Linked DNA regions of Homo sapiens. The protein of the gene in region 3 purifies or fractionates together with the protein of the main gene of each other region. This does not show direct contact. Each region holds a gene or a part of one and is shown on either strand. Other genes may lie near its edges.

Region 1 (3,500 bases), on a different chromosome or scaffold from region 3:
GGCCGAAGTGGGAGGATCACCTGAGCCCAGAAGGTTGAAGCTGCAGGGAACCACGATCGTGCCACTGTACTCAACCCTGGGCGACAGAGTGAGACTCTAACAAAATAAAAATAAAAATACCACATATAGTCTGGGCGCAGTGGATCATGCCCATAATCCCAGCACTTTGGGAGGCCAAGGTGGGAGGAAGGAATGCTTGAGCCCTGAAGTTCAAGACCAGCCTGGGCAACATAGGGATCTCCATCTCTACAAAAAATATAAAAATTAGGTGTGATTGTGCACACCTGTAGCCCTAGCTGCTCAGGAGGCTCAGGTGGGAGGATTGCTTGAACCAAGGATGTCAAGACCACAGTGAACCATGATGGCACCACTGCACTCTAGCCTGGGTGACAGAGTGAAACCTTGTATCCAAAAAATAAAAAATTAATTAATTTAAAATCCATATACAGATGCTCCTCACCGTATGGTGGGGTTACGTCCAGATAAACCTGTTGTAAATTAATGATCTCATAAGTCAGAAGTTCATTTGATACTTCATTTGATATCATAGGATACTTCTCTTTGAAAACTGAAGAGCATTCCGAGTGTGTACCACTTTGGCGCAATTATAAAGTCAAAAAAAAATCTTCGGTTAAATCATCAAGTCATGGACTGGCTGAGTAGCCCTGAAAGCTTTCATGAATTTAGAAATCCATGGCCCGGCACGGTGGCTCACACCTGTAATCCCAGCACTTTGGGAGGCCGAGGCGGGCGGATCACGAGGTCAGGAGATCGAGACCATCCCGGCTAAAACGGTGAAACCCTGTCTCTACTAAAAATACAAAAAATTAGCCGGGCGTAGTGGCGGGCGCCTGTAGTCCCAGCTACTTGGGAGGCTGAGGCAGGAGAATGGCGTGAACCCGGGAGGCGGAGCTTGCAGTGAGCCGAGATCCCGCCACTGCACTCCAGCCTGGGCGACAGAGCGAGACTCCGTCTCAAAAAAAAAAAAAAAACAACAAAAAAAAAAAAACTAGCTGGGTGTGGTGGCACATGCCTGTTATCCCAGTTACTTGGGAGACTGAGGCAGGAGAATTGCTTGAACCTGGGAGGCGGAGACTGCAGTGAGTCAAGATTGCACCACTGCATTCCAGCCTGGGCGACAGAGTGAGACTCCATCTCAAAAAAAAAAAAAAAAAAAACGGCTGGGCATGGTGCCTCACACCTGTAATTTCAGCACTTTGGGAGGCTAAGGCGGGTGGATCACCTGAGGTTAGGAATTCGAAACCAGCCTGGGCGACAGTGAGACTCTGTCTCAAAAAAAAAAAGAATTTAGAAATCTAAAACTAACTGATTTGCCAATGAAATTATATAGTCTGTCATTAAGTTTATTACTGGTAAATTTATAAGTATATTTGTAAGTGTTAACCTAAAATTTACTAGTTAAACCAACGTTTTAGAAGTTTATTGTGGCATAATTTACATACAATAAAATTCTATTGTTTTAAGTATCCCGTTCAATGAGTTTTTGGCAAATGTATATTGTAGTCCCATGACACTCATACAGTTCTCTTACCCTGAAAGTTCCCTCGTGCATCTTTATGGTCAGTTGCCTGCCCCCACCCTTTTCTGGGACAACCATTGCTCTTGTTTCTGTCACTCTTATTTTGCATTTTCTAGAAATTCATATAAATGGAAATACACAGTATGTAGGCTTTGGTGTATGACTTCTCTTAATTAGCATGTTATTTTGGATTTCTCCATTTTGTTGGGTGTATCAGTAGTTCCTTTTTATTGGCAAGTACTATTTCATTGCACAGGTATACTGTTGACCCTTGAATATTGCAGGGATTAGGGATGCTGAACCCCTAACATGGTTGAAAATCCATGTATGTATGACTTGACTCTCCCAAAACTTAACTACTCCTGCTTTTGGCTGGAAGCTATACCAATAACAAACAGTTGATAAACACATATTTTGTATGTTATATGTATTATATACTGTACTCTTTCATAAAGTAAGCTAGAGAAAAAATGTTATTAAGAAAATTATAAGGAAGAGAAAATCTATCTACTCTTCATTAAGTGGAAGTGGGTTATCATAAAGGTCTTCATGGTGAATAAGCTAAGGAAGACGAGGAAGAGGGGTTAATCTTGCTGTCTCATGGGTGGCAGAGGAGGAAGATGTGGAAGGCGAGGCAGGAGAGGCAAGCATACTCTGGAACTTTACAGAAATACATTGTAATTTCTGACTTTTTTGCCCTTTCACTTCTCTAAAAATGTTTCTGTAGGGTACCAATCCTCTTCCACAGTTTTTAGTTTCAGTGCCCACGTCATAAAAGGGTCTATGTCATAAAAGACGTCAAAAGCATCTTGAATAATCAGAAACCTTCTGCCAAATTGTCTAATGTCACCTTGTTTTCTGACACTGCTGCTTCTACATCATCTTCCTCATCACCCGGCACTGCTTCAGAAGCACTCACCTCCATCAAGTCGTCTTCTGTTAATTCCTCTGGCATAGTGTCTGTTAGCTCTTGATTTCTCCGTGATCCATATCTTGAAACCCTTCACCCCTCACTTTTGGCCATATCCACAGTCTCTTTCATGATTTCTTGTTTGGCTCTGTCGTAAATCCTGTACTGTCATGCAAAACCTCTGGACATGGTTTTCTCCAGCAGGAATTTATAGCTGCAGGCATGAGGCTTTCACAGCTTTTTCCATAATAATGACAGTGTCTTCAATGGCATGGTCCTTCCAGACTTTTATGATGTTCTTTCCATCGAGTTCTCTTCCATAGCATTGACACTATTTTCCATAGAGTAGTGTGTGTAATGAACCTTAAAGGTCTTTATGACTACCTGTTCTGGAGGCTGAATTAGAGAGTGGGTGCAAGGAGACCACTTTGTTGCCTTTCGGTATTGAACTCATGGGGTTCTTGGGTGGCTGGGACATTGCTCAACATCAAAAGAGCTTTAAAAGGCATTCCTTACTGGCAAGATACTTCCTGACTTCAGGGAAAAAGCATCAATGGAATCAATCCAGAAAAAGAGCTCTCCTTGTGCAAGCCTTCTTGTACATCCAGAAGACAGGCCACTGGTGTTTACCTTTTCCCTTCAAGGATCGGGGTTAGCAGCTTTATAGATAACGGCAGTCCTGATCATAAACCTGACTGCATTTGCACAAAACAGTAAAGATAGCCTATCCTTTCCTGCATTAAATCCTGGTGTTTGCTTCTCTTCTTTACTAATAATTGCCCTTTGTGACATTTTTTTCCAGAACAGGACGTTTTTCATCTGCACAAAAAACCTGTTCAGGCAGATATTATTTCTCCTCAGTGATTTTCTTAATGGCATCTGGGAACTTGTCTGCTGCCCTTTGGTGAGCAGAAGCTGCTTCTCCTGTTACCCTGACATTTTTAAAGCCACCTCTTTCTAACATTATCGAAGCATCCTTTGCTGGCGTTAAGTTCTCCAGCTTTAGATCCTTCATTTTCCTTTTGCTGTAAGTTGTCATATAATGACTTA
Region 2 (3,500 bases), on a different chromosome or scaffold from region 3:
GACGCCTTCCCTGATTGCTGTGATGTGGGCTAACTGCTATCCTCATTTGGCATCCTCATACCCTTATTTACGATGTTAGTTAGGCCATTATCTCTCTGTGGGACTGAGAGCTCTTAAAGGGCTGGGGATATCAAACACACCTTGATTACTCTCCCTCTTCCCACAAGACCAGTCATTCTTCAAAAGATAGTCCAAGTCTCTTTAGAGGAATTGTCTTCTCCTGTTTTCTCCTTTTCCGACAACTCCTATTTCCTCAAATTCAGTCCTGCACTTACCAAGAGCAATAGGGTCACTGCTGAGGCCTGGGGTGGCCACAATGATCTGATCCAGAGACTCCTTATTGCTGAGCATCTTAAAGACCTGCAGGAGAAATGGCGGGGGCTGAGCACTCCAACCAGCTCAATGTACTCATCAAATGCCCACACTCTGCCAAAGGACTTCCTCCCTCTAAGTGCTTGCATGTACATCACCACAATGGAACAATAGCCCCAGAAACAGATGAACCTCTTTTTGCTCTAAGATCTTAGCTTACTGGAGGGGAAACAAACAATTTAAAAAAAAAAAAGGCAAGACCACAGTAAACCTTCAAATCTCTGTGCTCCTTTTCCCCACCTACAGTTTAGTGCTTCCAAAATAAAAGCTCTCATTACAAGCCCGGTAACAAAGGTTTCTCTAGGTTCCAATCCAAAAGTCCTTTTCAATCTCTGTACAATTACTATTTCATATTTGTATATATCGCTAAGTTCACAGCTATACTAATTTTGCCTCTCAACTCTCCTACAGAAAGACATCAGCCCACTTCCCCAGTGAGGACATCTAGGTCAAGGGGCAGTAAGCAGGCAGTTCAGCCAAAGTCGAAGAATGAGGCCCAGCAGAAACAGTATGAGGATCTTTTGGCTGTCACCATACGGGCAGGTTGTATTATTATCATTAGAGGGAATCAACAACGCCTGACTGAGACAGGCTCTTTGGGGAAAGACAGGGCTCTACTGAGGCCCACAGACATGGCAAAAACTCCCCAAGGAACTCTTGGTTGCCATGGCAACGGGCTTCCAGCTCCCACTCCACACCACTCGCCAGCCAGCGTTCACACCCTCTCCTACAGTCCTGGCTGGGGGCCGCAGCACACACTCACCGCCTCCCTGTAAGAGGAGCTGCTGTGCAGGGCAGTGTGCAACACCCGGAACTCTCTCATGGCAGCCACTTTGTCCACAGGTTCTGGGGGACAAGACATTCAGAGTTACCCTATAGCGCAGGTCCTGTCTCTGCCACAGACATGGCAACATCATTTCAGCATGTGCCAAGGAGCAGCCTGGTCTGTGCATTCCCTTCCCTCATCACCCCTTAAGAATGTGAGTGCCTGCTCAGAAAAACCCATTTGTGCCATGGATGTGAAAACTGCTAGTAAGCATCTTTACATTCACTTGTAAGCATCTTGCACAGATAAACAAACAAATTCAAGTTGCAGCAGAGGAGACTCTTACCACATGAAAAACGGTGCTCTGATCAACATACCACTGCAGGAATTCTAGACTAATAACATTTGTTTTTTGGTGTTTTTGCCTTTGTTTTTCAGACAGTCTCACCTCTTGCCCAGCCAGAATGCAGTGGCGCAATCTCGGCTCGCTGCAACCTCCACCTCCCTGGTTGAAGCAACTCTCGTGCCTCAGCCTCCTGAGTAGCTGGGATTACAGGTGTGCAACACCACTCCTGGATAATTTTTGTATTTTTAGTTGAGATGGGGTTTCACCATATTGGTCAGGCTGGTCTCAAACTCCTGACCTCAAGTGATCCACACACCTCGGCCTCCCAAAGTGCTAGGATTACAGGCGTGAGCCACCGTGCCCAGCCCTGGGTCACACTTTTTAAAGTATGGTTATCCTCACGAAGGACCACTACTTGTGACTGTACTGACTGTGTACTGCCCAACTCCAGGGCACCACTCCCAAAGCAAGGTGAATAGCACCCCTGGGGTTCAGGGTGGCAGCCACATCCTTATCGACAGTCCTGATCATGAGGCTGTCTTTTGAAAAACAGTCATCTTAAGTAAATTACCTAATTTATTCATTCAACAAACATGTACTAAGCATTTACTCCATGCCTGGCTTTAGGCAAGGAACTAGAATATGAAAAATAAGAACCCCTGCCATCAAGGAACTCTTAGGGCAGGAGGAGAAATGAGACTACATCAAATACACAATTACAAAATGCCACGTTGAAGACCTCAACAGAGACGTGGATCCCAGCTAGGGTACCAGGAACACAAAGGCAGACAGGCACCACTGAGAGGGAGGGTGAAGATAGACAGCTGCCTCCCAGAGGAGACCATTTGAAATGGGTATCAAAGAGAGAGCTGATATTTACTGGGGGGGTGAAGGTATTCCAAGCCTGAATGAGAACATGTGCAAAGGCATGGGAGAATAAAAGAATGTGGTGCTTTGAACAAACAGCAAGTCATTCTTTGTGGCTGGAGCTTGGGGTACACATTCCAGCTCAAACAGCAGGTTAAGGTGACGTCCTGAAGGGATTTGTAACCCGCCATGGAGGACTACCAAAGAGATCCAGGTGGGAAGACAGACAACAATGGGTTCTTCTCCTATAGGCCCTAATCTGTGGGAGAACACAAAATGTGATTCCTTTGTGAAGAAAAGCACTCAAGGAGCAAATATCTAAAACACTGTCACAAAACAGTTTCTTTACAGATCTAAAAGTTTATTGTAACCTTCCAATAAAAAGGTCATTTGTTTCAAAAATAATCCTCCAGGTAGAAGGTGGGAGGAAAAGGACTCTTAATATCTTAAGCCATTATTCAGCTAAGAGCCATGGCTGTCACTGTAAGATCTCTGAGCTAAATTCATCCTTTAGAAGTGGAACGCAGCCAGCCCAGTGGAAATGGTTTTCCTCTTGAGCCAGGAAAACCCCTGGTCCATATCCCAGCTCTTGCATTCACTTTCTAAGTAGCTGACCTTGAATAAATGCCCTAACCCTTTTCTTCCTCCATAAGATGCTAATGCTGTTACCTACCCTGCAGGGCCACTGTAATGATTAAATGAGGTATAAAAGGGAAAAAACCTGGCTCACAGAAGCCACAAATGTTATTTTCCTTCTGTTAATGCCCTCCAGCCAAAGAGCTGAGGGGCATATCTGTATTTAAACAAGTTGGGTTTACTGCTCAGTACAGAGAGAAGAATGCACACCACAGGAAACCGTGGGCTGTCTCAGTAAGAGGATATTAGAAAGGACTTTTTTTTTTTTGAGACAGAGTTTCGCTCTTGTTGCCCAGGCTGGAATACAATGGCGTGATCTCGGCTCATTGCAACCTCTGCCTCTTGGGTTCAACCGATTCTCCTGCGTCAGCCTCTCAAGTAGCTGGGATTACAAGCAGGCACCACCATGCCTGGCTAATTTTGTATTTTTAGTATAGACGGGGTTTCTCCATGTTGGTCAGGCTTGTCTCGAACTCCCAATCTCAGGTGATCCGCCCACCTCGGCCTCCCAAA
Region 3 (3,500 bases):
TGAGATCAAGATATATAACATTTCCTACATCCAGTATGTTCTATTGTGCTGCTTCCTAGTAAATCATTTCTTTGCTCAAGATTTACTGTTTAGCCACATTTTGAGTTTGGCATCTTTGGAAACAAGTGAAAGAGTATAGGCTTCGATTTAAATCCCACCCTTGCCACTTAATTGAGTGATTTTGGGAAAGTTACTTAAGAATAGAAACCACCTCCTCATTTGTTAAATGGGGATAGAATTTAATTCAAAATGGTATTATAAAGATTTTTAAAAATATATGCCAAACAACCTGCACATAACAAGTGTCTGAAAATATTTAGTTCTTCTCAGCTCCCCATAGAGCTGAATATTTTTACATTCAGTTAAATTTATTTTTGCCCAAAACTACTAATAGGAAGAAAATAGATACCATCCATCAAAAATAATTTATAGGACTTACAGATTGAATCATGCGTAAAACTCATTCATGTAAGACCTTTTCATATCATTGTCTCTTTTTTTTTTTTTCTGAGACAGAGTCTCGTTCTGTCACCCAGGCTGGAGTGTAGTGGTGCAATCTCAGCTTACTGCAACCTCCACCTCCCTGGTTCAAGCAATTCTCGTGCCTCAGCCTCCCGAGTAGCTGGGACTACAGGCACAAACCACCACACCCAGCTAATTTTTTGTGTGTATTTTTAGTAGAGACGGGGATTCACCATGTTGGCCAGGCTGGTCTCGAACTCCTGGCCTCAAGTGATCTGCCTGCCTTGGCCTCCCAACGTGCTGGGATTACAGGCGTGTGCCACCACGCCCAGCTGATATCACTGTCTTGTATCACAACTTTTACTACTCTGGGAAAAGGGAAGCAGCTATAAGCAATGTGCTTTATGAGAAATTATTTCCAAAGGAAAAAGCATCTGTATTCAAGATATGGTGAGAACTATACCAATAACCCTAGAATTACAAAGGCACAAAAACAGATTTAAAAAAAAAAAACTAGACAAAGCAATGGAAAAAAAGAATAGCATCTTCTTAGAATCACTGCCTATAGTAGTTGCTATGATAAACCTTCTAAAAGAACACGTCATCATTTCAGCTTACATTTTTTTAGTAACCAGCATATTTAAGTATACTATTATAGCCATTCTCATATTTGTGGCCATAAAATATTAATAGCTTTATTCTGTTTCTTTAGATTGAGCCTAAGTAGAAAAGGAAAGTTTTATTACTAAATTGGTTCTCTTATGTACATTTCAGCTTAAGACCCTGTGTAACAAAAGAAGAAAATCAGATTTAGAAGCTTAAAGGTTTGTGTACTAGCATTAACTCTCTTATGAAAACCCCGAGAAACTAATTCTGCAAGACAAATGTCTGTGATACAATGTATTTCTTGGAGGTTTCTTTTATTTGGGGGACTGGGGGGGTAGGATTGAAAATATCTTAGGTACAAAATATATTAATAAACATGAACTTCTATCTAAAAATAGCAACTGATATGTACATATTTTAGAATTTTTTCTCTAAAGTTTTTTTAAAGCATACTATTAAAAATCTACTTGTTCCTCAAAAGTATAACTTTCAGATTAAGTTTTAAAATAATATTTTCAAAATTCGAAAAAACATACGTACCTCCAGGTACTGGTAAAATACTGAAAACAGTGGCCATGTCCTCCCAAGCAGAAGAGCTAACATAGATTTAGCAGTATCAATATCAAGGCTTCTCTGATCTTTATCCTAAAATATAAGTGAAAAAGTTTTCCTAAGTGTGGTCTCAAGATGAAAAGCTATTAAAACAACAAAACAAGAAAATTGCACCTACCCTTGCAAAATCAAAGGCATATCTGTAGATATTCTTAAATGACGAAATATCATTCAACTGTGAGCGCAAAAAGTCAAATTTGTTTTGTAACTTTTCTGTGCAGTCACACCTTAAATAAAAGAAATATCAAACAAATTACATAATCAAGAAAATCAAATAAAAGTATCACTGGGGGTTAGACGTAATGCATTAAGAAAAAAGTGAGCGCATTTATGAAGTTAATTTAGTTTTAAAATTCTGAGTCACAAATTTAGAGTAATAAATTTCTTGCCCTGCATCTACCAATGCAATAAAAAAAGAAAAAAGGGGAAAAAAGAAAACCTGGGAATCAAAGAAAGTTCACTCCAATTACTTTGCTTAAAAACAAACAAACAGCTCATTCAAAAATTCCAAATAAAATCGAAGTTAAAAAGAGATGTATTAAAACATGTTTTATCACATATACAGCTAAAAATGGCAGAGCAAATGAAACTAATCACGCCTTTGTCACACATTTCTTTAGAAAGTTCGTAGGTAACAGTTTGGTGAAAGACATTAGTCATGAGTAGTTTTAAAAGTTTAGGATATAACACAGTGCAAATTAATACATTAAGTGGTCCAGTCATAAATCAAGATCCCTATATTTTTGTGAACAAAAAGTCAAAGTCAATCAGTAGAAGCACCTAACTTCAAATAAGTTATATATGCAAAAGCATGCAAACAACAAGTCATACGTGTTATTTTTAAAGACAAGACATTAAATATAAGCAGCTAAATATATGGAAGGCTCAAAAATCTTAACTGACTTTGTCTCAGTGGGTTGATAAATTCCACTGTTTAGCAAGAAGCAAGGCAGTCAAGGCCTTTCACAATTTGGCACAAATCTCTAGTTTCATCTCCTGCCACTTCCTGATAACCTTACCATGCTCTAATTATATCACTTACCATTCCCAAATGCCACTGCCATACTTCAGCACCCATTATTTCCACTTGAAATCTCAAACATGCTGATAAAAATATTATTCATCAAGACCTAACTCACATTTTGCCACCTCTGAGAGACCATCTGACTCCCTTTAATCAAATTAATTGTGCCATCTACTGTGGTCCACAGTATTCCACTCAAAACTGAATTTTAGTTATTCAACATGCTCTCCAGCCACCTGGCATTCTCAGATTTAACTAAGACTATACTAAATCAATAATGCAAAGGCCTATAATGTGTAGTAACATAATTTCATTAATGTGTAAATATTTTGGACAATTTTCTAATATTAATTAAACCTTGCATTTCTAGAATAAGTCAAATTTGGTCATGTTATCTGTTTTATACATTGCTGGATTTTGGGGTTGTTTTGCTAGGTTCCTAAGTGAGACTAGCTTTTAAGTTTCATTCTTACTCTCCTTGCTAGTTTTTTTAACAAGATTGTAGTACATAAGACTCAGAAAATGAAAAGAGAATTGCTACTTTTCCCCCCCGTTTTTTGAAAAAGCTTATGTAACCCTGGAATTAGCATCTGTCCAAACTCAGGTGAGTATTGAGGGAAGGAAAACTTTTAACTAATAAACCAACATTTTTAATGGCCATAGGGCCATTCAGATTTTCTATTTCTTTTTGAATGTTTTGGTCCCATACTTTTCTCATAACTGATTATTTTACATATAAGTTTATTTAAATATGATTAAAATTTATAACATTTTCTAATTTGCATTAGCATTATCT

What was found.
Region 1: the proteins of DCUN1D5 (region 3) and PNO1 fractionate together in Homo sapiens (co-fractionation; one large-scale study listed by BioGRID). This does not show direct contact.
Region 2: the proteins of DCUN1D5 (region 3) and UBL7 fractionate together in Homo sapiens (co-fractionation; one large-scale study listed by BioGRID). This does not show direct contact.

Annotation. Positions count from the first base shown.
Region 1 is NC_000002.12:68,164,388-68,167,887, forward strand, and holds part of PNO1 (RNA-binding protein PNO1), read left to right. Parts: intron 1-550; coding exon of another isoform or gene 551-572; exon of another isoform or gene 573-1,487; intron 1,488-3,500. UniProt on the Homo sapiens protein: Part of the small subunit (SSU) processome, first precursor of the small eukaryotic ribosomal subunit.
Region 2 is NC_000015.10:74,451,161-74,454,660, forward strand, and holds part of UBL7 (ubiquitin-like protein 7), read right to left. Parts: intron 1,219-3,500; coding exon 1,136-1,218; intron 361-1,135; coding exon 276-360; intron 1-275.
Region 3 is NC_000011.10:103,064,661-103,068,160, forward strand, and holds part of DCUN1D5 (DCN1-like protein 5), read right to left. Parts: intron 1,908-3,500; coding exon 1,799-1,907; intron 1,714-1,798; coding exon 1,609-1,713; intron 1-1,608. UniProt on the Homo sapiens protein: Contributes to the neddylation of all cullins by transferring NEDD8 from N-terminally acetylated NEDD8-conjugating E2s enzyme to different cullin C-terminal domain-RBX complexes which is necessary for the activation of cullin-RING E3 ubiquitin ligases (CRLs).